Homo sapiens: one gene and its partners. The protein of the gene in region 4 purifies or fractionates together with the protein of the main gene of each other region. This does not show direct contact. Each region holds a gene or a part of one and is shown on either strand. Other genes may lie near its edges.

What was found.
Region 1: the proteins of HTR2C (region 4) and SEC63 purify together in Homo sapiens (co-immunoprecipitation; 3 studies listed by BioGRID and IntAct, with this or other methods). This does not show direct contact.
Region 2: the proteins of HTR2C (region 4) and HEATR3 purify together in Homo sapiens (co-immunoprecipitation; 3 studies listed by BioGRID and IntAct, with this or other methods). This does not show direct contact.
Region 3: the proteins of HTR2C (region 4) and GPR89A purify together in Homo sapiens (affinity purification with mass spectrometry, with the first as the bait; 2 studies listed by BioGRID). This does not show direct contact.
Region 5: the proteins of HTR2C (region 4) and ACTA2 purify together in Homo sapiens (affinity purification with mass spectrometry; 2 studies listed by BioGRID and IntAct, with this or other methods). This does not show direct contact.
Region 6: the proteins of HTR2C (region 4) and PTRH2 purify together in Homo sapiens (co-immunoprecipitation; 3 studies listed by BioGRID and IntAct, with this or other methods). This does not show direct contact.
Region 7: the proteins of HTR2C (region 4) and TAPBP purify together in Homo sapiens (affinity purification with mass spectrometry; 2 studies listed by BioGRID and IntAct, with this or other methods). This does not show direct contact.

What each region holds. Positions count from the first base shown.
Region 1 is NC_000006.12:107,951,709-107,955,208, reverse strand, and holds part of SEC63 (translocation protein SEC63 homolog), read left to right. Parts: intron 1-3,500. UniProt on the Homo sapiens protein: Mediates cotranslational and post-translational transport of certain precursor polypeptides across endoplasmic reticulum (ER). Proposed to play an auxiliary role in recognition of precursors with short and apolar signal peptides.
Region 2 is NC_000016.10:50,086,470-50,089,969, reverse strand, and holds part of HEATR3 (HEAT repeat-containing protein 3), read right to left. Parts: intron 1-3,500. UniProt on the Homo sapiens protein: Plays a role in ribosome biogenesis and in nuclear import of the 60S ribosomal protein L5/large ribosomal subunit protein uL18 (RPL5). Required for proper erythrocyte maturation.
Region 3 is NC_000001.11:145,617,988-145,621,487, forward strand, and holds part of GPR89A (Golgi pH regulator A), read left to right. Parts: intron 1-332; coding exon 333-436; intron 437-3,500. UniProt on the Homo sapiens protein: Voltage-gated channel that enables the transfer of anions such as iodide, chloride, bromide and fluoride which may function in counter-ion conductance and participates in Golgi acidification.
Region 4 is NC_000023.11:114,582,766-114,586,885, forward strand, and holds the start of HTR2C (5-hydroxytryptamine receptor 2C isoform a precursor), read left to right. Parts: upstream 1-1,320; 5' UTR 1,321-1,894; intron 1,895-4,120. UniProt on the Homo sapiens protein: G-protein coupled receptor for 5-hydroxytryptamine (serotonin).
Region 5 is NC_000010.11:88,946,274-88,949,773, forward strand, and holds part of ACTA2 (actin, aortic smooth muscle), read right to left. Parts: intron 2,681-3,500; 5' UTR 2,658-2,680; coding exon 2,529-2,657; intron 1,114-2,528; coding exon 985-1,113; intron 1-984. UniProt on the Homo sapiens protein: Actins are highly conserved proteins that are involved in various types of cell motility and are ubiquitously expressed in all eukaryotic cells.
Region 6 is NC_000017.11:59,700,931-59,704,430, reverse strand, and holds part of PTRH2 (peptidyl-tRNA hydrolase 2, mitochondrial isoform b precursor), read left to right. Parts: intron 1-3,500. UniProt on the Homo sapiens protein: Peptidyl-tRNA hydrolase which releases tRNAs from the ribosome during protein synthesis. Promotes caspase-independent apoptosis by regulating the function of two transcriptional regulators, AES and TLE1.
Region 7 is NC_000006.12:33,299,194-33,301,636, reverse strand, and holds the end of TAPBP (tapasin isoform 1 precursor), read left to right. Parts: 3' UTR 1-1,943; downstream 1,944-2,443. UniProt on the Homo sapiens protein: Involved in the association of MHC class I with transporter associated with antigen processing (TAP) and in the assembly of MHC class I with peptide (peptide loading).

The DNA of each region.
Region 1 (3,500 bases), on a different chromosome or scaffold from region 4:
GCAATGCAGTGAGGTAGGTTCTATTATTATCTCCATTTACAGGTAAAGAAACTGAGGGTAGAGCATGTAAGTAATTTTCCTGTATGGTTGAACTGGGATTAGAACATTGGTCGCTTAGCTTCAGAGCCCTGTGTGGTTTCCATACTGCTAGATAGAAAGTTAGGTGAACTATTATGGGTGTCAGTTTGCCCGTTTTACATCCGGCTCTCTGCTTCAGGCTTGCCTTAGTCCATATGCATATTTTGATGTATTTGTTTGCTCTTGCTCAAAATTGTGTTATGAAAATTAAGGTGAATACTTAAATGCTATTCTAATCATTATGAAAATTGTTGGGCACCACTTGGACTTTTTTCTTGGATTTACCCTAATAACTTGAGTTGTTTCTGTGGAATTACAGTTGTAGTAAAAGGATGTTTTCATCATAGTGACTTTTTTTCTGCAGCCCAGTTGCAGTATCTTGAATATGAAAGAGAAATCTTGAATTACTGCCTCATTCAAAGCTCTGAATAAGGAACTTTTTTCAGAAGTTTGCTGCAAAATAATTTGCCGACTTGTACTGACAGGAGGCTACTGAATAATCTTTATCTCACTTAATAAATAGTTATGTTCTGTCTTGGAATATTAATTTGTTTGGTTATTGGTGCACTTTAGACCCCATAGGGTCTGTTTGAGTGTAAACGCTGTGTTACTTTTCTAAAATCTGAAAAATTCTTTTTTTTTTTTTTTGATTTTTTTTTTTTTTTTAATTGATCATTCTTGGGTGTTTCTCACAGAGGGGGATTTGGCAGGGTCATAGGACAATAGTGGAGGGAGGGTCAGCAGATAAACAAGTGAACAGAGGTCTCTGGTTTTCCTAGGCAGAGGACCCTGCGGCCTTCCGCAGTGTTTGTGTCCCTGGGTACTTGAGATTAGGGAGTGGTGATGACTCTTAACGAGCATGCTGCCTTCAAGCATCTGTTTAACAAAGCACATCTTGCACCGCCCTTAATCCATTTAACCCTGAGTGGACACAGCACATGTTTCAGAGAGCACAGGGTTGGGGGTAGGGTCACCGATCAACAGGATCCCAAGGCAGAAGAATTTTTCCTAGTACAGAACAAAATGAAAAGTCTCCCGTGTCTACCTCTTTCTACACAGACATGGCAACCATCCGATTTCCCAATCCTTTCCCTGCCTTTCCCCTCTTTCTATTCCACAAAACCGCCATTGTCATCATGGCCCGTTCTCAATGAGCTGTTGGGTACACCTCCCAGACGGGGTGGTGGCCGGGCAGAGGGGCTCCTCACGTCCCAGTAGGGGCGGCTGAGGAGAGGCGCCCCTCACCTCCCGGACCGGGCGGCTGGCCGGGCGGGGGGCTGACCCCCCCACCTCCCTCCCGGACGGGGCGGCTGGCCGGGCGGGGGGCTCACACCCCCACCTCCCTCCCGGACGGGGCGGCTGGCCGGGCGGGGGGCTGAACCCCCCACCTCCCTCCCGGACAGGGCGGCTGGCCGGGCAGGGGGCTGACCCCCCACCTCCCTCCCGGACGGGGCGGCTGGCCGGGCAGAGGGGCTCCTCACTTGCCAGTAGGGGCGGCCGGGCAGAGGCGCCCCTCACCTCCCGGACGGGGCGGCTGGCCGGGCGGGGGGCTGACCCCCCCACCTCCCTCCCGGACGGGGCGGCTGGCCGGGCGGGGGGCTGACCCCCCACCTCCCTCCCGGACGGGGCGGCTGGCCGGGCAGAGGGGCTCCTCACTTCCCAGTAGGGGCGGCCGGGCAGAGGTGCCCCTCACCTCCCGGACGGGGCGGCTGGCCGGGCGGGGGGCTGACCCCCCCACCTCCTTCCCGGACGGGGCAAATCTGAAAAATTCTGAAGCACATTTGTTCTTAAGGATTTTAAGTAAAAGATGAGGACCCCCGTAGTACAGTTTTGGGGAAACACAACAGCATATATAAGTATTTTTATTTTTTGAGATGGAGCCTTGCTCTGTCACCCAGGCTGAAGTGCAGTGGCGTGATCTCGGCTCACTGCAACCTCTGCTTCCCGTGTTCAAACGATTCTCGTGCCTCAGCCTCCTGAGTAGCTAGGAAAACTGGCGCGAGCCACCATGCCTGGCTTATTTTTGTATTTTTAGTAGAGATGGGGTTTCACCATGTTGGCCAGGCTGGTCTCGAACTTCTGACCTCAATTGATCCACCTGCCTCGGCGTCCCAAAGTCCTGGGATTACAGGCGTGAGCCACTGTTCCCTGGCCACAGCAGCATATTTTAATACTTGTTTTTGAGGCTTAGTTTATTTAGTTTTCCTGTGAAACAGTTAAGTAGCCAAATACAAAAATGTAGGCATGCGTTTGAATTTCAGACTTCTGACAGTATTTTCAGAGATAGCATGTGCATGAAAGCATGAAAAGGTTTGCTCTGGCAGTTACACAACCTTAAAGTTCAGTTTAAGTAATTTTTTTTTTGTTTGTTTTGGCATGAAGTCTCGCTCTGTTGCCCAGGCTCCAGTGCAATAGCAAGATCTTGGCTCACTGCAACCTCCACCTCCCAGATTCAAGCAGTTCTCCCACCTCGGCCTCCCAAGTAGCTGGTATTACAGGTGCCTGCCACTACGCCCGGCTAATTTTTGTATTTTTAGTAGAGACAGAGTTTCACCATGTTGGCCAGGCTGGTTTCCAACTCCTGACCTCAAGGGATCTGCCCACCTCGGCCTCCCAAAGTGCTGGGATTACAGCTGTGAGCCACTGTGCCCGGCCCAGTTTAACTAATCTTTATTGAGGTTTTTTTTTGTGTGTTTTCTGCAACACATTTGGGACTTTCAATTTTTAAGGTTGACAGTCGTTTCAGCATGGCTGTTTTGGAATTAGTGGGCTCTTGAATACACCAGAAAGCATAGCACCATTTCACAGCTTGTAAAGTCTGCGGTTTGAAAAATGGAAATAGTTCGTTTATTGGCATATTTGACATGTTAATTGAACGTACCTGTTATCTAAAACATTATTAATGGAATACTTTTGCCTTGATTTCTGCTTAACATGTTTAGCTAAGCGTACTTATAATTAATACCCCTTTTAGTAGTTATTTGTTTTACTCTCTTGGTTTGCAAATTGGCTGAATAAAATGAATATTTCTTCAGACAATTAAGGACAAAAGCTCTGTATGCAATGATAACACGGAGGGCTTAGATTTCCTTGGCATAGTGATTCTTAACCCTGGCTACACATTAGAATCACTTCGGGAACTTTTTTTTTTTTTTTTTGAGATGGAGTCTCGCTCTGTCACCCAAGCTGGAGTGGAGTGGCGCGGTCTCAGCTCACTGCAAGGTCTGCCTCCTGGGTTCACCCCATTCTCCTGCCTCAGCCTCCCGAGTATCTGGGACCACAGGCGCCCACCACCACGCCTGGCTAATTTTTTGTATTTTTAGTAGAGACGGGGTTAGCCAGGATGGTCTTGATCTCCTGACCTCATGATCCGCCTGCCTCAGCCTCCCAAAGTGCTGGGATTACAGGCTTGAGCCACCGCG
Region 2 (3,500 bases), on a different chromosome or scaffold from region 4:
CTCTAGGACGGGCACGGTGGCTCATGCCTGTAATCCCAGCACTTTGGGAGGTCGAGGCGGGTGGATCACAAGGTCAGGAGTTCAAGACCAGCCTGACCAACATGGTGAAACCCGTCTCTATAAAAATACAAAAATTAGCTGGGCGCATTGGCAGGCACCTGTAATCCCAGCTACTTGGGAGGCTGAGACAGGAGAATTGCTTGAACTTGGGGGGCAGAAATTGCAGTGAGCCAAGATCGTGCTACTGTACTCCAGCCTGGGCAACAGAGTAAGACTCCATCTCAAATAAAAGAAAAAAAAAGAATATCATCTCCAAATATAAGCGATTATCCTTTATCAAATTCATTCTGATAAGAAAACATTCTGTTACTCCAAAATAAATAACAATGACACTACTTTTCAAGTCATTTTGATTCTCCATTTCTCCGAATGCCAATATTAGGTGATACGAAGGCCACAGATGGGATACGAGTATGGGCCCCAAGCAAGCTGGACAGCCCAGAGGTATTGTAATGGCCCTCTTCCCCCAGCAGTAACCATCCAAACCCATTACATAGGCAAGGCCAATTCAGACTACCAATCCCTGGAAGTAACTGAGCACATGTCATTAGGTGAATACATTTTCAAAATTACTGTTGTGACAGTAACGTGTGGTAGGCGATTTCTACATAAATATCATCAAGACCCTCAGGATACACAAAAGCATTCTTAACCTAGCAGCATGTCACATTCCTGAACCTTAAAAAAAAAAAGATGATGTCAAGAATAGACATGAAATGGGAATTTATTTAAAATCAAAGTGCTTAGTTATATTTTCCCACAATTCAGAAACTTTCCATTATTTCTCCAGGACTCAGCTTGGGGCAGTTTTCCTGTGATCTTTGCAGTTAATAAATGTGCTGGCCTCAGTGACCACAAATAACCAGCAGAACCAAGAGAAACATATCTGAGTGCTTTCACTATAGCACAGGCACACAGGGAGTTTGTTTCAAGTGAAATAACCTCTGTGTGCTGCCTGGGGATGGGACCGGGGGTACCTGGACCAGACTCTCAGTGAGAAATGGCCCAGAGCTGAGAGATGGCAGCTTGTGGAACCAGGGCTGCCAGGGTTACCTAGAGCTTAGGTAGGGCTTGGAAGCAGTGAGAGACTTGGGGTCCTGCTCACCTGGGACCCTGGCTGTGGACTCCCTGCCTGGCTCTGCCCCCTGCCTCTACTCAGGGGAATGGGTGGGGGTGGGCATGAGCAACAGCAGCCCTCTCACTCCCACCCCACAGGACATCTTGCTGGGCTGATGGGAGCCAGAATGCTTGCAAAAGTTGGGGAAAGTCCCCTCCCCGTTTACCATCCAGATCTCTTCCAGGTTTAGGAGGCTAGGAGACAAATACAAAGCTACAGCCATCATCTGGTCTGCTCACACTGACGAGCTGCCTCTGTACTCCAGTGCTTGTCCCGTCCTGCCCTGGAATGGGAATGGGACTAGCACTGCCCATATCCTGACTATATCCTGTCCTGGGCATGGCTGGGCACAGCTTTCATGGGATCATTCCAGCCAATGAATGCACAGCCAGGGAGTACTTGAAAGGTACACCTGTTAACTGATCAATGTTGAAAGGGTGGCAGAGACAGCTCAGTAACCACATATGGGTTTCTGAATATTTAATTACTTAATTTTTAAAGATTAATTTAGAACTTAAAAAACATGTACCATTAAACACACAGCACCTCTTAGGAACTTGACGGAATGTAAAACAGATGTCTAAAGAACTGGGGACCAACACTTGAATGGATGTTGACACAAAAACTTGTATTTAGTTAAAAGTGACTCTCTTTTGATTTTTTTTGAAACGGAGTTTCACTCTTGTTGCCCAGGCTGGAGTGCAATGGCGCGATCTTGGCTCACCACAACCTCCGCCTCCCGGGTTCAAGCGATTCTCCTGCCTCAGCCTCCCGAGTAGCTGGGATTACAGGTGCCTGCCACCACGCCTGGCTAATTTTTGTATTTTTAGTAGAGACAGGGTTTCGCTATGTTGGCCAGGCTGGTCTCGAACTCCCAACCTCAGGTGATCCACCCGCCTCGGCCTCCCAAAGTGCTGGGATTACAGGTGTGAGCCACCGCGCCTGGCCTGATCTTTTAAGAGTTCAATTCTTGGACTTAATGTTGTGTCTGAAAAGGAGGATAAAATATATGAAGAATACACTGAATATAACACAATGGAATTATCTTATTTGCCAGTGTAGAAAGCAAATATCTTCACGTTTACCCTCAAAAAATCCTGAAAGACACCTGGAACCTCAGCAGCTGAGAGAGAGGGGCAGATTCCCACCTCCCAGGCTACCCTCGCTCCAGCAATGGATACTGGGTGGAGTAATGTGGAGAGTTTTCCTTCAGTATAGAAAACACCACTTGTTCTTCTCTCTCAGTCTCTCTTGTTTTTGTTTGGTTTGAGCTCCTATAGTTTAATGTGGTCAAATTAAGTAAGATTTTACTATGAGGAACTATGAAAATCTGTTAGAAGAACATGCATTGGACTTTGTACAGCTAGTTTTTGTTTTTTTTGTTTTTCCCTCCAAGTGAAACCTACAGCTAGGTCATTTAAAAGAATATTTAATTTAACTCTTGTATCGCTATAGATCTTTGTGTGCATATGAAATTAATCCGTATCAGAGACCTGTAACTTAAGAGAATCAGCTCCTACCATGCAAAGGTGTTTGAAGAAAGATACATGTTAGATGATGGCAAGGTGTAGAATTGTGTGGATGGTATTCTACCATTTGCCTTACACACACGCACGCATGCCCGCATACACACGCTCTCTTATACATGGAGAATCTCTCTGGAAGGATACACAAGTAACTGGTGCAACAGTAACTTGACTCTGGGAGAGGAACTGGGTGTCGGAGAAAGGAGGGAGGCTTTCCAGTTTCTGTCCTCTAATAACTTTTGAATTCTGTACTACATACATATATTAATCAAACTTAAATGCTTGTAACTGGGAAGAAAATAATAGAATAGTACTCAATTATTATTATTATTATTTTGAGATGGAGTTTTGCTCTTGTTGCCCAGGCTGGAGTGCAATGGCACAACCTCAGATCACTGCAATCCCCACCTCCTGGGTTCAAGCGATTCTCCTGCCTCAGCCTCCCGAGTAGCTGGGATTACAGGCATCTCCACCACCACGCCCAGTTAAAGTTTTGTATTTTAGTAGAGCGGTTTCATCATGTTGGCCAGGCTGGTCTCCAACTCCTGACCTGAGGTGATCCTCCCGCCTCGGCCTCCCAAAGTGCTGGGACTACAGGCATGAGCCACCGTGCTTGGCTGAGAATTATCCAAATACCTTAATGAGGCCTTTATGATATTTATGATACAGCCTTGACTGGCCTGATATAACTGGATGCAAACAATTTTAACAAAAAAGAAAATTATAAGCCCAGGAGCTGCTTGCATACCTCGTTTTGACTCTGTACCCCATGGCAACTATAAATACATGATTCCTGT
Region 3 (3,500 bases), on a different chromosome or scaffold from region 4:
CCTTTAAACATTAACCATTATGTACGAATCTGTCAGTTTTTTGTCAGTATGCATCAGGAATTCTAAGTGCTACCTATGACCCTGTCACTTCATCTTCTTGTCCTCAAAATTCTTCATCCACAGGAGGATGCTGGTAATAGTGACTCAAGATTCAGAAGTGCCACCTATATTGATCTTTTTCTTTAGCTCCAGGCAAGTTGCTGTTGTGGCCCTACTTCCAATGACTTGAGAATTTCCTCAAAATAAGTTTTCTGACTTGTAACCAGAAGGAGGTTATCAGTTCAGTTTTTAAACAAGGAAATAACTTCTAGTCTCTGTTTGGCTTTTAACAGATACGTCAGTATGTTGTACAGGTGATCTTCTCCGTGACGTTTGCATTTTCTTGCACCATGTTTGAGCTCATCATCTTTGAAATCTTAGGAGTATTGAATAGCAGGTGAGTAAGAGTACTGAAAACTCCTCTTGAAGAGTTCTGTGCTACATTCTTTACAGTGGAAAAGCTATTGGATCTCATAACTGAAAAAAAAAACACTGTGTTAATAGTTCAGTTTCAGTAACTGCAATGATCACAACAGATATGGGTCACAGCCACCTAATAGCTGGTTTGATAAAGATTATGAGATACCAGGAAACAAAAGATCTGACCGTTAACTCTGAAGAACTCATTGGAGTGAGGCTGTGAAGCTGCAGTCTAGGCTTCACTCCTAGAAGCTTTATTTTTCCAGGACTGCTCGCTGACTGAATCCCAGTAACAGCCCTTCACATTGTTCTGCTGATTGAAAATCTCTACCTGAAAAGATTAGAATTCCTCAGAGCTACTTTAATGATCTCTCTGAAGACTGAAACTCCAGTTCTTACTTAACTTAGTTATTTTTATTGATTTTACAGTCATGGTCAAGTTTGGTTGAATTTAAAGTGTTTCTTAAAACACTTTTTAAAAATAACTCTTTACTCCCCTCCAAATAATAGACTTGTTAGTTTATTAGACAGTCTATTCAAAATATTTCTTGCTTGTTAATCTGCAAGCTTGAGTATGTTTTTAGGCCAGCATTTATATGTAGGGTTCATCAACTATGCTATGCAGACTTTGTTGTGCTTTTTTATCACCACCTGGAAAAACCTTTTAGGAGTAAAGCAGTCTTTCACTCTAAAGTTAGGATTCAGTGCCAAGGTAAGTTCATTATAGACCCCTGGCACTTGAGACTTGTAGAGAGACTATACTCTCAAATCCTTTGATAATCAGAGTTGAAAACGAAATTTAAATTAAAAAGAAAAACTTACTATACAGATGGTTAATCACAAAACATTGAAAGGTTAAAAAAAAAAAAAGAAGAGAGAGGGGCCAGACATAGTGGCTCACGCCTATAATCCTAGCACTTTGGGAGGCTGAGGCAGGAGGATCACTTAAGTGCAGGGGTTCAAGACGAGCCTGGGCAACAAAGTGAGACCCTGTCTCTACAAAAAAATAAAAAAAATTAGCAGAGTGTGGTAGTACACGTCTGTAGTGCCAGCTACCCTGGAGGCTGAAGCAGGAGGATCCCTTGAGCCCAGGAGTTTGAGGATATGCAGTGAGCTGTGATCACTGGACAAGACAATGAGACCCCATCTCTTAAAAAAAAGAGTGAGAGAGAGAGAATCAGAGTTGATAATAATGGTCTCTTGATAGAACAATGAATAACATGTATTATGGTAAAATAGAAGTGTTTTCTGATTCTCCTGCTTTTAAACTTTAATAATCCAAACCTTGGCCGGGCACGGTGGCTCACGCCTGTAATCCCAGCACTTTGGGAGGCCAAGGCAGGCGGATCACGAGGTCAGGAGATCAAGACCATCCTGGCTAACATGGTGAAACCCCGTCTCTACTAAAAATACAAAAAATTAGCTGGGCGTGGTGGTGGGCGCCTGTAGTCCCAGCTACTTGGGGGGCTGAGGCAGGAGAATGGCCTGAACCCAGGAGGCAGAGCTTGCAGTGAGCCGAGATTGTGCCACTGCACTCCAGCCTGGGCGACAGAGCAAGACTCCATCTCAAAAAAATAAATAAATAAAAAATAATCCAAACCTTTTCTTGGATGAGCTAGATATAGATCCTGTGACTATAGAGAATAGACAGGTATTATTTTACATAATGGTTATTAAATTTTATTATCACAACCTGCATCTTTCACTGCTATTTAAGCAGGGGTTGGCAGGCTTTCTTCTGTAAAGGGCCAGATAATAAATATTTTAGGTTTCTGTGGACCAGAAGGTTTCTATCACAAGTACTCAGCTCTGCTGTTGTAGAGAGAAAACAGTCATAGGCAATATATAAACAAACGAGCATGGCCATGCTCCAATAAACTTAATTTGTAAAAGCAGGTGGCTGTGAGGCCATAGTTTGCCAGCTACTCATCTAAATATTGATACAGAGGATTCAGATATTCTAAAGCTATATTTACTGTTTTTGGTAGATGATGTCCCCCAACTTTTAACTTATAGTTAATAACCCGTATAGTAAGAAACATCTGTCATACTATGGTGTATGTTTCCTAAATTTCTTAATTAGTTAAAGAGGATAAGAAGTAGCATTGCTAAAATCTGGTTTTTCTTTGTGTGCTATATAGAGGATTGGGTCTGAGACATATCTTCAGTTATACCTGTTTTTTCATGCTAATGTTTCACCCAATTATGGAACACAAATATGAACCTTGATGATGTATAACTGTCCATTGACTGGACTCAGAATCGTTTTGAAAAGAGAATCTTGGCCAGAATATTCCTTTGACTCACCTTTGAGCAGAGATCATATGACTTCCTATTCAAATATGTAATCTTGTTGGGATGCTTAGTTTTTTCAAGAGAATATCACTTTACTCTCAGCTCAAAAGACTAGTTAAAACATGTGGTTCACTTTTAATAGGCAGTCCATACTGCCAATTAAAGTTGCACTTGTTATTTCAAACCCACTGCTTCCCAAAATCTTTCAGAAGCTTAGCTGAAATACTATGTAGTATTGCCTGGAGGATGTCCAGCTTGTTTCTTTCTCTAAATGTTCTAAAGTAGTTGTTAACCTAGAGGAGCAAAAAGCTGTCAATGTATCTAGTCTAAATGGTATTCACTCCCTGTAGGGTAGCTTTTACTGAATGGCTCTTTGTTTCGTGATGCCTGCCATCTGTACTAAGGAAGGAACAATAAGAAACAGCCCTCTGAAACATATTTCTCTTGAAAGGATGTTGTTGATGACACTGTTAATTGCCTTTGCATTTTCTTTATGAAATCTTTGAAGAAATTTCATTGTAATCTTGTTAATAATTCAGTAACAATAAATGATAATTATGCTTCCTTTGAGGAATTAATTTTTATTTTCTTACAGACATGATGATTTTATCTAACTGATCAAATTTTTTATTTCACATTGACCATTAGAAAACTTAAAGCTAAATTTATGACCTACCCATAGCAACTTTCTAGAATTCTGTTTTATAATAGCCATCAGGCTTGGCCCAATATTTTACCTGTTACCA
Region 4 (4,120 bases):
TTCGGCCTTCAGAATAGCCGGCAGCTCCCACCCCTTTTGCGTTCTGCCGGGTTAGGTCCTCCAAGCCTCTCTCTGTACGGCCTCTCTGTAGCCTCTTCTATACACTCGCTGCGCTGCCGTCCGGTCCTAAGTAGCCAAACCGGAGGCTCGATCTTTTGCTTCGGTCCAGCTACCTCCGACAGGCGGGGAGCCAATCTCCACTTTTCCCACCCCGGTCCTCGGTACAGGGCCGAGAAACCTCGGCCGCGACCCGAGACCACCACCCCCGCTCGCCCCTTCGTTCCCTCTTAGGAGAGATCTGCTTCTGTCCCCATTCTCCGTGGGATCATCTCCATTACTCAGCTTGGTTTTGGTGCCTCTGAGCCAAGGGGGCCCCGTTCACCCTTCTCTGCGCTGCCGCCAGGACACCGCAGGCACCTGCCCGGTTGCGCCTGGGAGCCTGTGAAAAAGAGCTCTGCCTGACCGGTTAGAGCTCTGCCTGACCGGTTGCAGCTCGGCATCCCAGCAGTTGCCAAAAGAGAGCCTTTGTGGTTCACCTCTTGCTGCCTTGACCTTGCATTGACAGCACCCCTCCCTCCCCCACAACGACTGGGCAACCGACTGGCTGTGGGCCCAAGGCCCTGTGCCAGAGAGATATGTTCACCCCCTTGGAAACCCGTAAGAGCTGCCCTCAAGGTGTCTTTCTAATGAGGCCTGTGGGGTCAAGAAAGGAACTAAACTGTGCCTTCCCGGGGCTCGAAGGCCAAGAGCTTTTCTTTCTCCTTTGGGGTTAGGGAAAGGATGGGGAGACAAGGATGGGGAAGTGGGCCTTATAACAGGATTGTGGCCTTTGCGCACTCACCAAATGTTTGACCCTGTGAGTGCCTCAGTTGCTACTGTTGGAGGAATGGGCAAGAGTCGGAACAGAGACCCTTGAAGGGAGTTTCAAAGCTTGATGAAATTTGCAAGACTTGAGAATGCTGTTTGTTGAAATGAAATGTACAGGGGTGTGTGTGTGTGTGTGTGTGTGTGTTTGGGGAGGGGTATGCTATGAATCTTTGAGGGTACATTCTTGAGAAAGCCTTCCCTCTCTCTCTATCCGGTGCCATGGCTGATCCTGGTTCCCCCTACTCTCTAGGCCTTGTGAATCAGATTAATCATCACCCCCACCCCCATCTCCACCATGGGGTCTCGCGCCCCCTGCCAGCAGGCTCCAGATGCACTAAGAGACCGGTCCAAACAGGCCCGGGGGCCACGTAATGCTGAGTGCTGATTGGCTGCTCTTGGCTCCTCCCCTCATCCCGCTTTTGGCCCAAGAGCGTGGTGCAGATTCACCCGCGCGAGGTAGGCGCTCTGGTGCTTGCCGAGGACGCTTCCTTCCTCAGATGCACCGATCTTCCCGATACTGCCTTTGGAGCGGCTAGATTGCTAGCCTTGGCTGCTCCATTGGCCTGCCTTGCCCCTTACCTGCCGATTGCATATGAACTCTTCTTCTGTCTGTACATCGTTGTCGTCGGAGTCGTCGCGATCGTCGTGGCGCTCGTGTGATGGCCTTCGTCCGTTTAGAGTAGTGTAGTTAGTTAGGGGCCAACGAAGAAGAAAGAAGACGCGATTAGTGCAGAGATGCTGGAGGTGGTCAGTTACTAAGCTAGAGTAAGATAGCGGAGCGAAAAGAGCCAAACCTAGCCGGGGGGCGCACGGTCACCCAAAGGAGGTCGACTCGCCGGCGCTTCCTATCGCGCCGAGCTCCCTCCATTCCTCTCCCTCCGCCGAGGCGCGAGGTTGCGGCGCGCAGCGCAGCGCAGCTCAGCGCACCGACTGCCGCGGGCTCCGCTGGGCGATTGCAGCCGAGTCCGTTTCTCGTCTAGCTGCCGCCGCGGCGACCGCTGCCTGGTCTTCCTCCCGGACGCTAGTGGTAAGTTGGAGCCCCGGGCGGCATTGCTAGCCGAGACCCCAACGATTTAGGCGGGGGATGGGGTGGGGAGCGGGGACAGGTCCCGGATGGCTGCAGCCTGCAGGACCGCACTGGCCCTAGCGGAGGTTGGGGGGAGGGACTCTGAACGCGCAAATCGCGAGGAGACTGAGTCTCTGGAAGAAGAGAGGAGCTTAGGTTCCACGGAAGGAGCATAGAAGTCTCTAAGGGGATTGGGAGCGGGGGCTCGAGATGAAGACGCTGGGCGGAGGCGGGGGTCTAGAGAACCTGGCGCGGGGGAAGCCGAGACAGAAACGGAAGGCGGGGGTGGGGTCTCAAGAAGTGAGGAGTGGGAGGAGAGAAAGGAGGGAAACTGAACGCAATGTCGCTGAGTAGAGGGTCGGGCTGCGGAAGATGCAACTGAGTTGCAGGACCGACTACAATTTTAAGAAATCCGACAGCAGGCAAGTGGGAGGGGGCGCAAGGTTTGGGACAGTGTGTGCAGAGGGGGAACCAAGGATCCTTTATTATGTTCTCATTGAAAAGCGACCCTAATTTTTCTGGCGGGTCTCAGCGAACATCCGTAACTCTGGGGAGATAACACACTGCGGATCTGTGTTTGGTCTAACAGCTGTTAGCTGAATTTGAACAGCGCTGCTGGTGATCACGTAAGCTTAAGAGGAGAGGATAAAGGCATCCAGTGAACCTTTTTTTAAATAATTAATTAGCTTATCTAAGTCATTTGGTTACTGTTCTATATTTTGAAAAGGATTGCGAAAAAGTCTCCAGCGCTGCCTCTTATTCCTGTACTCAGTTTTACCTGACAAGCAGTCTTTACAGCGTTCCTCGGAATTGCTAAACATGAGAACAGGTTGCCGTTCCTGATGTCACATAAAGTTCGTCATTGCAAAACGTGTCTGTGTGTCTGTTTCTTTTCTGCGCCATGCCCTTTGCCTTTTGCTTCCTGTTGGGTAGTATGCGACTTGAGGTGACAAACACTTGCATTGTGTTTGAGAACCCTGTATTTTAAGCAACAGAGCTCCCCAACTCATAATTCAGCGAGTGACATTCGGCAGTTAAAAGATTTGGTCTGGAATCACTGCCAGTACCGCGCAGCTTCTTCATTAATATTACCAGTATAAGTCCCATCCAAGGAAGCCTCTGATTGCTGAGCCACTAAGTGCATATGCCCCTTACCTCATACCTTTTAGGCAGGCTAACCGAGGGACGCTCATATATGGTTGAGCTAAGATGATTTGGGGGGCGGGGGGTGAGGAAATGCGGCGCACTGAGTAACCTCTGAGCTCCCCAGTTTGCAGACAATTGCGACCTCACATACACGGTAATGAAAAAAGATATCTGGGCTCCAGAGTTTAAATTTTTCATGAAGAAGTTTACGTACATATCAGCCATTCTGACAATCAAAATATGAGTGCAATAGAAACAAGGTGTTACTGTGTAGTTGGCTACATATGTGTAGAGACAATGACAAAGGCCAACTGACATGCCCCACAGAAAATGATATCTACCGTGATCATTGCATCTCTTTTGCAGTACTGAAATCATACTGAATATTGTCTGTTCTGAAGAGTATAATCTCCTTAGCACCTGGCTGTTTGGGAATCATCTACAATGCCCCCCCATTCCACCCCACAGGTGGGGGGAAATAAATAATTTTGTCCATATTTTGGGGAGGTAGGTTATAGAATATTTAATTATATTTTTCATTCCTTAAATAAATTCTCCTGATCCTCCTGGGGAGGGAAGAAAATATTTGTTTCATCAACATGATTTCTTTCCTAATAGCGTCTATCATCTACAGCAACAAGCCCAACGCAAGTCCTGAAATTCGGAAGGTGGATAAGGCTTGTTGATTGCAATGTCAAGGTAGGATTTGGGGTGCTTTAGCAAAAATGACGGTGTTTTTCTATCTGCATTATCTAGAGAGGGTTATTAACCCTTTCTATGCTTTCTTGAGGGGTTTATCTCCATCTAGAGGTGTCATGGATGACAGTGATGACTTTTTCAGATAATGTAACAGGCTTTTGTGCAGTATGAATTCATCAGAAAAGAGGTGAGAACTGATATTTCTGGGAACCTCCTGGATGCCAGACGTGGATCCAGGACTATTACATATATATACATAAAATATATATTATTTCATATAGTCTTCATAGCAAGTCTATGAATGACGGAGATATTATTATCCTCCATTTTATCGGTGCCATT
Region 5 (3,500 bases), on a different chromosome or scaffold from region 4:
CCTTTTTTTTTTTTTTTTTTTCAGTAGAAACAGGGTTTTGCTATGTTGCTCAGGCTGGTCTCAAACTCCTGGCCTCAAGTGATCCAGTGCTGAGATTACAGGTGTGAGTCACTGTGCCCTGCAGGATTTTTTTCTTCTTTTTTTTGAGATAGGATCTCACTCTGTCACCTAGGCTGGAGTAGGATCTTGGCCCACTGCAGCCTCCATATCCCAGGCTCAAGTGATCCTCCCACCTCAATCTTTCAAGTAGCTGGGACTGAGGTGTGTGCCACCATGCCTGGCTAATTTCATTTATTTTTTGTAGAGACAGGATCTTACTATGTTACCCAGCCTGGTCTCAAACTCCTGGGCCAAGCGATCCTCCCACCTTGGCCTCCCAAAGTGTTGGGATTACACGTGTGAGCAACCATGCCTGGCAAGGGATTTTTTTTTAAAGAAACATTTTAGGATTTTTTTTTCTTTTTTTTTTAAATTTTATTATTATTATACTTTAAGTTTTAGGGTACATGTGCACAACGTGCAGGTTTGTTACATATGTATACATGTGCCATGTTGGTGTGCTGCACCCATTAACTCGTCATTTACATTAGGTATATCTCCTAATGCTATTCCTCCCCCTCCCCCCACCCCACAACAGTCCCCGGTGTGTGATGTTCCCCTTCCTGTGTCCATGTGTTCTCGTTGTTCAATTCCCACCTATGAGTGAGAACATGCGGTGTTTGGTTTTTTGTCCTTGCGACAGTTTGCTGAGGATGATGGTTTCCAGCTTCATCCATGTCCCTACAAAGGACATGAACTCATCATTTTTTATGGCTACAAGGATTTTTTTTTCAATGGGTAATAACCCAGAATGAACATTAACAAGTAAAAGTACAGTTGAGCAATGTGAGCCAGTTATTTCCCCAGCAGTAGTGTGGTGTTCTGTATCAGAGAACACAGGGATTATGCATCCTGAGGGCCCAAGCTGCAGCAAACCTCCCATACCTTTTCCATGTCGTCCCAGTTGGTGATGATGCCATGTTCTATCGGGTACTTCAGGGTCAGGATTCCTCTTTTGCTCTGTGCTTCGTCACCCACGTAGCTGTCTTTTTGTCCCATTCCCACCATCACCCCCTAAAAAGGTTCAACACATTATGAGTCAGCATCTCCCAAAACTTGTGAATCAATTACAGCCAAGCCACAAAAGGTTAAGTCATTGAGATGGGAAGTTCCTCTTCTGATTATCAGCAACAATAAACATATTGAGTCTCATTGCCACTATGCTCTTAAGCAAAATTCTGCAGTTGATTGGAAAAAGACCTGAATTGCCTCCAAATAACAGGAGATGTTGGGGGAAAGTCAACTTTACTTTGTATTTTTATCTCCTATGTTCCTTGATGAGCTTTTTTAGGGCAGAGATCATGTCTGTCTTGTCCATCACTATAGCAAATTGCATGGCACATATGTGGCACTCAATAATTATTTGTTGAAAGAATGTATACAATTTTACATATTTGTTAAATGGCATTTTGTGTCTTATAAATCCTTTAAACTGTACTTTTAAAGTCATCACCTACCCAAAAGAATATGAGCATTATTTTCTAACTATTATAAGCAAAAGCATTGCATCTACAAATAACCACTTGAGGCTTGATTTCTAATGGATAAGTTCATACCAATCAACTGTTAAGACATTTGCCTAAATTAGTCAGCTGCATTTAAAAAAAATCATTAAGGTGAAGTTCTTAAAAAATTATTGTTACTAGATTTTAAATTGCACTGCAGTGACTATTTTAGAACTACAAAACAGCCATGGCTACTATGGACCCATAAAATAGCGGCTTGTGCAGAATATCTCCACTGCATAAAGATCAATGAATTCAGACAGACTGCATTCATTGGGAGAGGTTTCTATTATTTATTCTCATGAATATATCCCAAGCAGAGAGGCATAAACATCAATCAGATAGCCTCAATGCACAAACTACATTTCTGATGTGAAGAAGAATTTCTGAGGTGAAATTACTGAGTTTTTACCATGTGATGCCACCAATACTTTGTTTACACATAATGTGTAAAATTACCATGCGGCTGTCCAAATATATTTTGTTGACAGGTAATATTATGTAAAATTGCATTTGGTATCGATGCTTGCTTTCATCTAACATCAGCCCTGTATGGTTAAGTGACCTGGACTTTTATTTTAGTTTCTTTCCAAACAGTAGCTTTGGTATACATCAGGATAATGTATAAGCATTTCTGATGGTGATGAAATGATTTGATGATGATGATGATGATGATAATGACTATATTTAGACAAAAAGGACATGAAAAAGGGGCAGACTTTGTATCTGATAGATGCCCATCAGATAATCTGTCTACATTATATGTGAAATTGGCATTTACTCCTGGACCTTAATCATTAGAGGTCTATTTGTAACAAGGTTACATAACTTCTGGGCAGAAAGAGATAGACAATCTGGGGATAAACATGAACACAGAGGAACCTAATCTGTGTCCTGTTATGTTCCAATCATAATTTTCCTCACCTGATGTCTGGGACGTCCCACAATGGATGGGAAAACAGCCCTGGGAGCATCGTCCCCAGCAAAGCCGGCCTTACAGAGCCCAGAGCCATTGTCACACACCAAGGCAGTGCTGTCCTCTTCTTCACACATAGCTGGAGCTGCTTCACAGGATTCTATAGAAAACAGGGAGGAAGCAGCCTCAGCTGTAATTGGGCATTTGTGGCACTTACCTGACAACTCCCACCTCCAAGGCTGGGTTTGGGGGCCCTCCTCTGTGTCCTAGTGCTATCCTCTGACCCTTATCTAATATAGCATGTATCTGGAAGTACTTTAGTTACACTATAAGCTTTCAGTAAGCTGAAACTCTGACTTCTGAAACTCTGACTTCTATGTTGATACAACCTTAGTGTAGTGACCGGCATATCATGTGTTCTCGTGAGCACTTTAAAGGTGGATAGAGCCAGTGAATGAATAAACAAACTGCAGAGCACAGATGGGAAATCCAGAGTCTGAGACCAGATCTTTGCAGAGACAAGTTGCCTACCTTATGTTAAAGAAGCATCTAGATTTTCCTGTCTGTATCAACCCAAATGCACATTTTTCTAGATATGCTATACCTTTTTGAAATTTTTTCAAAAAGCTAGATTTTTGAGGGACAGGCAGCATGTAAAAATTTAGAAATGTTAAAATGGTCAAGTGTTTAATGGAAAAATCTTTTTGAATCATGAGGACTTTTACTTTACCCTCAGAGAAGCTTTGAAATAAAATTTTCTGAGAAGGTGCTTTAAATTTTAGGGGCTGCAATTATCCACCGTTAATAAAAGTCACTGTTAAGCTAACAGTCCAACAAGTGAGGGTGAGCCTGATGGATTATATATCATATGGTAGAATACTTTACTGCCATTAAAAAGGTAGAGTAAGAGGATAAGCAAAAGGTAGTTCTTATGTAAGAGTAATAGGTTAGAAAAAGTAACATTGTAAATCTCATTAAAA
Region 6 (3,500 bases), on a different chromosome or scaffold from region 4:
TTCTGTCCTTTAAGCTGATATATCCTTTTTTTTCTTCTTTCTAGATATCTCTGAGATGTCTTTTGTTCAGAACAAAACTAATTCATTATCTTTTCCATTCAAACCTGGTATTTCACCAAAATTCTCCATTTGTTCAAATCTAGCTGTCATTATTAACTTCTCCCTTTCTTTTGCCACCAGACTTCCTGTCAGTCACTAAATCAGACAGGTGTACCTTAGACACTTTTTTTATTTCTCATTCCCACTACTGTTGTCTAAATGACCATCATCTCATCTAGACTGCTGGGAGAGGCCTGATATAGTAATGTTAAGAACAAGGGCTCGGCAGGGCATGGTGGCTCACGCCTGCAATCCCAGCACTTTGGGAGGTCGAGGTGGGTGGATCACCTGAGGTCAGGAGCTCGAGACTAGCCTGGCCAACATGGTGAAACCCCATCTCTACTAAAAATACAAAAATTAGCCGGGTGTGGTAGCACATGCCTGAAGTCCCACCTACTTGGGAGGCTGAGGCAGGAGAAGCACTTGAACCCCAGAGGTGGAGGTTGCAGTGAACCAAGATTGCACCACTGCACTCCAGCCTGGCAATAGAGTGAGACTCCGTCTCCAAAAAAAAGAACAAGGGCTCGGCAGGGCATGGTGGCTCACGCCCGTAATCCCAGCACTTTGGGAGGCCGAGGTGGCTGGATCACCTGAGATCAGGAGTTTGAGACCAGCCTGGCCAACCTGGTGAAACCCCGTCTCTACTAAAAATACAAACAATTAGCTCGGTGTAGTGGCGGGTGTCTGTAATCCCAGCTATTTGGGAGGCTGAGGCAGGAGAATCACTTGAACCCAGGAGGCAGAGGTTGCAGTGAGCCGAGATTGTGCCATTGCACTCCAGCATGGGAGACAAGAACAAGACTCTGTCTCAAAAAGAAAAAAGAACAAGGGCTCTGGATTAAGACGACCACTTATGAGCTGGGTGAATTTAGGCAAGCTATAACTTGTGTACCTCATTTTTCTACATCCGAAAAATGGGGATCATAATTATATATAGATGCTTCTCAACTTAGGGTGGGGTTATATCCTGATAAACCCATCATAAATTGAAAGTACCATAAATTGAGAGCCAGGCACAGTGGCTCATGCCTGTAAATGTAGCTACATGGGAGGCTGAGGTGGGAGGGATCATATGAGGCCCAGAGTTCGAGACCAGCCTGGGCAACATAATGAAACCCCTGTGTCTTAAAAAAAAAAGTTTTTTTTTAAATTAGCAGTGTGTGGTGGTATGTGCTTGTAGTCCCAGCTACTGGGGAGGTTGAAGTGGGAGGATTGCTTGAGCTCAGGAGTTCGAGGCTGCAGTGAGCTATGATCACTCCACTGTATTCCAGCCTGGACAAAAGAGTGAAACCCTGTCTCTTAGAAAAGGAAATAGAAGTTGGAAATAAATTTAATACACCTAACCTACCAAACATGGTAGTTTAGCCTAGCCTACCTTAAAGGTGCTCAGAACACTTAATTTATTAGCGTACAATAGGGCAAAATCATCTAACATAAGGCCTACAAGTGTTGAATATCTCATGTAATTCGTTGAATACTGTACTGAAGGTGAAAAACAGAATGTTTGTATGGGTAAAGTTTCTACTGAATATGTGTTGCTTTTGAACCATTGTAAAGCCAAAAAGCTTAAGCGAAACTACAGTAAGTCCATGACCAGCTCTATTTACCTTGAAGTGCTGTTAGGCACATTAAAGAAGACAATTCCTATAGAGTGTTTAGCCAGTGTGTAGCAGAACACTTCATAAATGTTAACTATTACTACATTATAGCAGCCTCTGAAATGATCTCCCTGTATCTATTGCCAACTGCTAGTCAAGGCTCAGGTATCTTTTAGAACAGGCGTCCCTGTGGCCTGTTAGGAACTGGGCCGCACAGCAGGAGGTGAGTGGTGGGCAACTGAGTGAAGTTTTATCTGTATTTGCAGCCACTCCCCATCGCTAACATTACCTCCTGAGCTCCGTCTAATTAGCGACAGCATTAGATTCTCATGCGAGTGTGAACCCTGTTATGAACTGCCCATGCGAGGGATCTGTGTTGTGTACTTCTTATGAGAATCTAATGTCTGATGATCTGTTACTGCCTCCCATCTCACCCCCGATGGGACTGTCAAACACCTTTTTATAACATTTACCAGTCTTGCAATTATTTGTCTTCACTACTTATCTATGAACAGCTGACAGTGGCCCATATTCATCACTATATCCTCAGCTTAACAGGGTGTATGGCTGGCACATAGATAGCCAGTAAACATTTGTTTTATTGAACTTAACTTCTCTTGGTCTGAATTTCTTCATTTTTGATATGGCAGTAATCCTCACTTCTCAGTGGATCAAATAACAATACATGTCAAAGTATTGTGGAAATTTTGAGCTATAAAGACAAAGTTTTGGCCGAGCACAGTGGCTCACACCTGTAATCCCAGCACTTTGGGAGGCCGAGGTGGGCGGATCACGAGGTCAGGAGATTGAGACCATCCTGGCTAACACGGTGAAACCCTGTCTCTACTAAAAATACAAAAAAAAAAAAAAAAAATTAGCCGGGTGTGATGGTGGGTGCCTGTAGGGAGGCTGAGGCAGGAGAATGGCATGAACCCGGGAGGCGGAGCTGGCAGTGAGCTGAGATCGCGCCACTGCATGCTAGCCTGGGCGACAGAGCGAGACTCCATCTCAAATAGACAAACAAACAAACAAAAAAACCCCAAAGTTTTAAAACAGCATGAAAGAAATTCAAAATTAGGATTGGACCATTTCAAAACCATTGCTAAAATGTAAGCTTCATTAGAGAAAGGACTTTTTCTGCTTTGTGCACTCCTGTATCCCTTAGATTCTAGAACAGGGTCAATCAGTATTTGTGGAAGGGAAGCAGTATATCATAAAACTAAAAGAATTGAAAAAGTAGAAAGTAGTCACACTTCTATTTCAGATACCCATTCCTATAGCTATGTTCTTTGTAATTGTTCGTCTCCAAAATCAAAACCCTATGCATCGCTCTAAGTCTTTCCAGTTTACTTTCATTACACCTGTTCTTCAACAGCATGTCTAGATAAATAGCATGCATCACTTTATTGTCCATAAATCAGTCTTTGATAATACAGGTTGCTTTTTATCAGGTAGGCCAAAAGAGAAAAATGTAATAACACAGGTTGCATGGTCTATCATGTCAAACATTCTTACCCTTATCCTAAATTCCCTTGTACCACTGTGTCTTGGGGCGTGCTCCTGGCATAATTTAAACTTGGATACATCCAACTACCATTTCAGTAGGAGGGGAGAGCAAAGGATGAGTGTGGATGGAGGTTAGTTTGTATGTCTGGAGGAAGTGATTAGTAGTTTTAGTCTTTTGGCTTCTAAGTACTACTGGAGAAAATCACAAATAGTATGTTGCCATTAAAAAGTCATCATTAATCTTAACCATGCTTTCAATATTCCTCTGCAATCCTGCCATATTTTGCCACACCTTTT
Region 7 (2,443 bases), on a different chromosome or scaffold from region 4:
GGAATGCTTTTTTTTTTTTCTTTCACTTATATAAGGGATAATTTTTCTTTTTTTTTTTTTTTTGAGACGGAGTCTCACTCTTCCGCCCAGGCTGCAGTGCAGTGGCATGATCTTGGCTTACTGCAACCTCCGCCTCCTGGGTTCAAGCAATTCTGTGGCTTCAGCCTCCGGAGTAGCTGGGATTACAGGCACATGCCACCACACCCAGTGAATTTTTGTATTTTTAGTAGAGACGGGGTTTCACCATGTTGGCCAGGCTGGTCTTGAATTCCTGACCTCAGGTGATCTGCCCACCTCAGCCTCCCAAAGTGCTGGGATTACAGGCGTGAGCCACCACACCAGGCCCGAGAAATGCTTTTTTAAAAAACACACATCTTATGGCATTCACCTTCTTGGAGCTCTAGGACAGTGGTTCTCAAAATTTTTTTCTCTCAGGACCTCTTAAAAATCATCAAGGACCCCAAAAAGCTTTTGGGTATGTGGGTTATAGCTATCAATATTTATGGTACTAGAACTTAAAAGTGAGAAAAATTTAAAACACGAGAATACATAGGCACACATTCTATTCATCGTGGGAACCATGGTGTCAATACATATCATGTAGCTTCTGAAAAACTCCACTGTACACTTATAGAATGAAGAAGGCAAAAAACTTTTTTTTTTTTTTTTTTGAGACGGAGTCTCGCTCTGTCGCCCAGGCTGGAGTGCAGTGGCGCGATCTCGGCTCACTGCAAGCTCCGCCTCTCGGGTTCACGCCATTCTCCTGCCTCAGCCTCCCAAGTAGCTCGGACTACAGGCGTCCTCCACCATGCCTGGCTAATATTTTGTATTTTTTAGTAGAGACGGGGTTTCACCGTGTTAGCCAGGATGGTCTCGATCTCCTAACCTGGTGATCCGCCCGCCTCGGCCTCCCAAAGTATTGGGATTACCCGCGTGAGCCACCGCGCCCGGCTGCAAATAATCTTTCTTTTTTTCTGAGACAGAGTCTCGCTCTGTTGCCCAGGCTGGAGTGCAGTGGCACGATCTCGGCTCACGGCACGCTCCGCCTCCCGGGTTCACGCCATTCTCCTGCCTCAGCTTCCCGAGTAGCTGGGACTACAGGGGCCCGCCACCACGCCCGGCTAACTTTTTGTGTTTTTAGTAGAGACGGGGTTTCACCGTGTTAGCCAGGATGGTCTCGATCTCCTGACCTTGTGATCTGCCCGCCTCGGCCTCCCAAAGTGCTGGGATTACAGGCGTGAGCCACCGCGCCCGGCGGCGAAACACGATATTGTACTAACATCTTAATTTTGTTATAAAATCTCACAAACCCCCTGACATAGTCTCAGAGATCTGTAGGGCCGAGGTTACATTTGGAGAACCCGTACTCTAGGGCCAAATCCATTCTTCTTGCCCTGGCTCACTTGTCCCCCCCACCGCCCCGCGCTGGAGCCACTGCCTAGTTCTTCAGCCCTAGATGGTGCTCGCCAGACCTCCTCTCAATGCTCATCACACACAGGGCTATTCCTTTCCTCCAATGAACCAAACGCCTCCCGCCCACCTCCAGGTCCCAGTCCTCTGTTCCCTTTGCCTGGTCCACCCTTGCCCTCCCTGGGTCGCAGACGAGGTCGGCCTCGTCATTCCCCGCAGACCGCCGCGCGTCCCTCTTGTGCGGTTCACCACAGTTGTATTTAAGTGATCGTGTGAGTCGTCGTTAAATGCCTGTCTCCCCGCGGATCATGGGCTCCTCGAGGACAGGGACTGGCCTGTCTGTCCACTGCTGTAACCCCGCGCCGGCATAGGGACCTAAGGCCCACTGGAGGGCGCTCATCAAGTAGCTGCTGGATGTTGACGAAGGAAGCGGCGGCGCAGCTCAGGGATCTCCGAGTCAGGACGGTCGGCCAGACCCACGGGGTAACGGGTCTAATCGTGTAGGAATAAAGCTGTATTCCAGTGCTTCCAAACGGTTCTCTCATTCCAACCCCTTTCCAAGCTCAATGAATATTCCAATCACCTCTGGTCCCTTCCAGTGACCCTGAACCGCTCAGAGAACGCCCCGTCGACACCGTTCGGGGCGGGCGCCACTACTGGCGCATGAGATGCGCTCAAGCAGAGGGTACTCCACCAGCGAGGATACACCGAGCCGACGGGGATCTCGGTCTCGGCGCCGGAAGCCTCTGAGAGCCGAATCTGGAACCGGATGTGGCTGCTTCCTGCCCCGCCCCCTGCCGAGGGGGCGGGAATCGAGGGCCCTTCGGAAAACCCGGCCGGGATTTCGGTCAGCTACATTCGTGGGTTGTGGTAGGGAGGGTAATCCCGTGGGGATGGAGTGACCGGCTCTCTCTCCGCCTGAAACGCTTCCCGCGGGAGTTTTAGCCGTGTTATTGTTGGGGAAGGGAATGTCAAATTCTGCTCCTGCCTTCCCCCAGGGGCTGGAGACTGGAATCTTTATTCCAGTTCATTG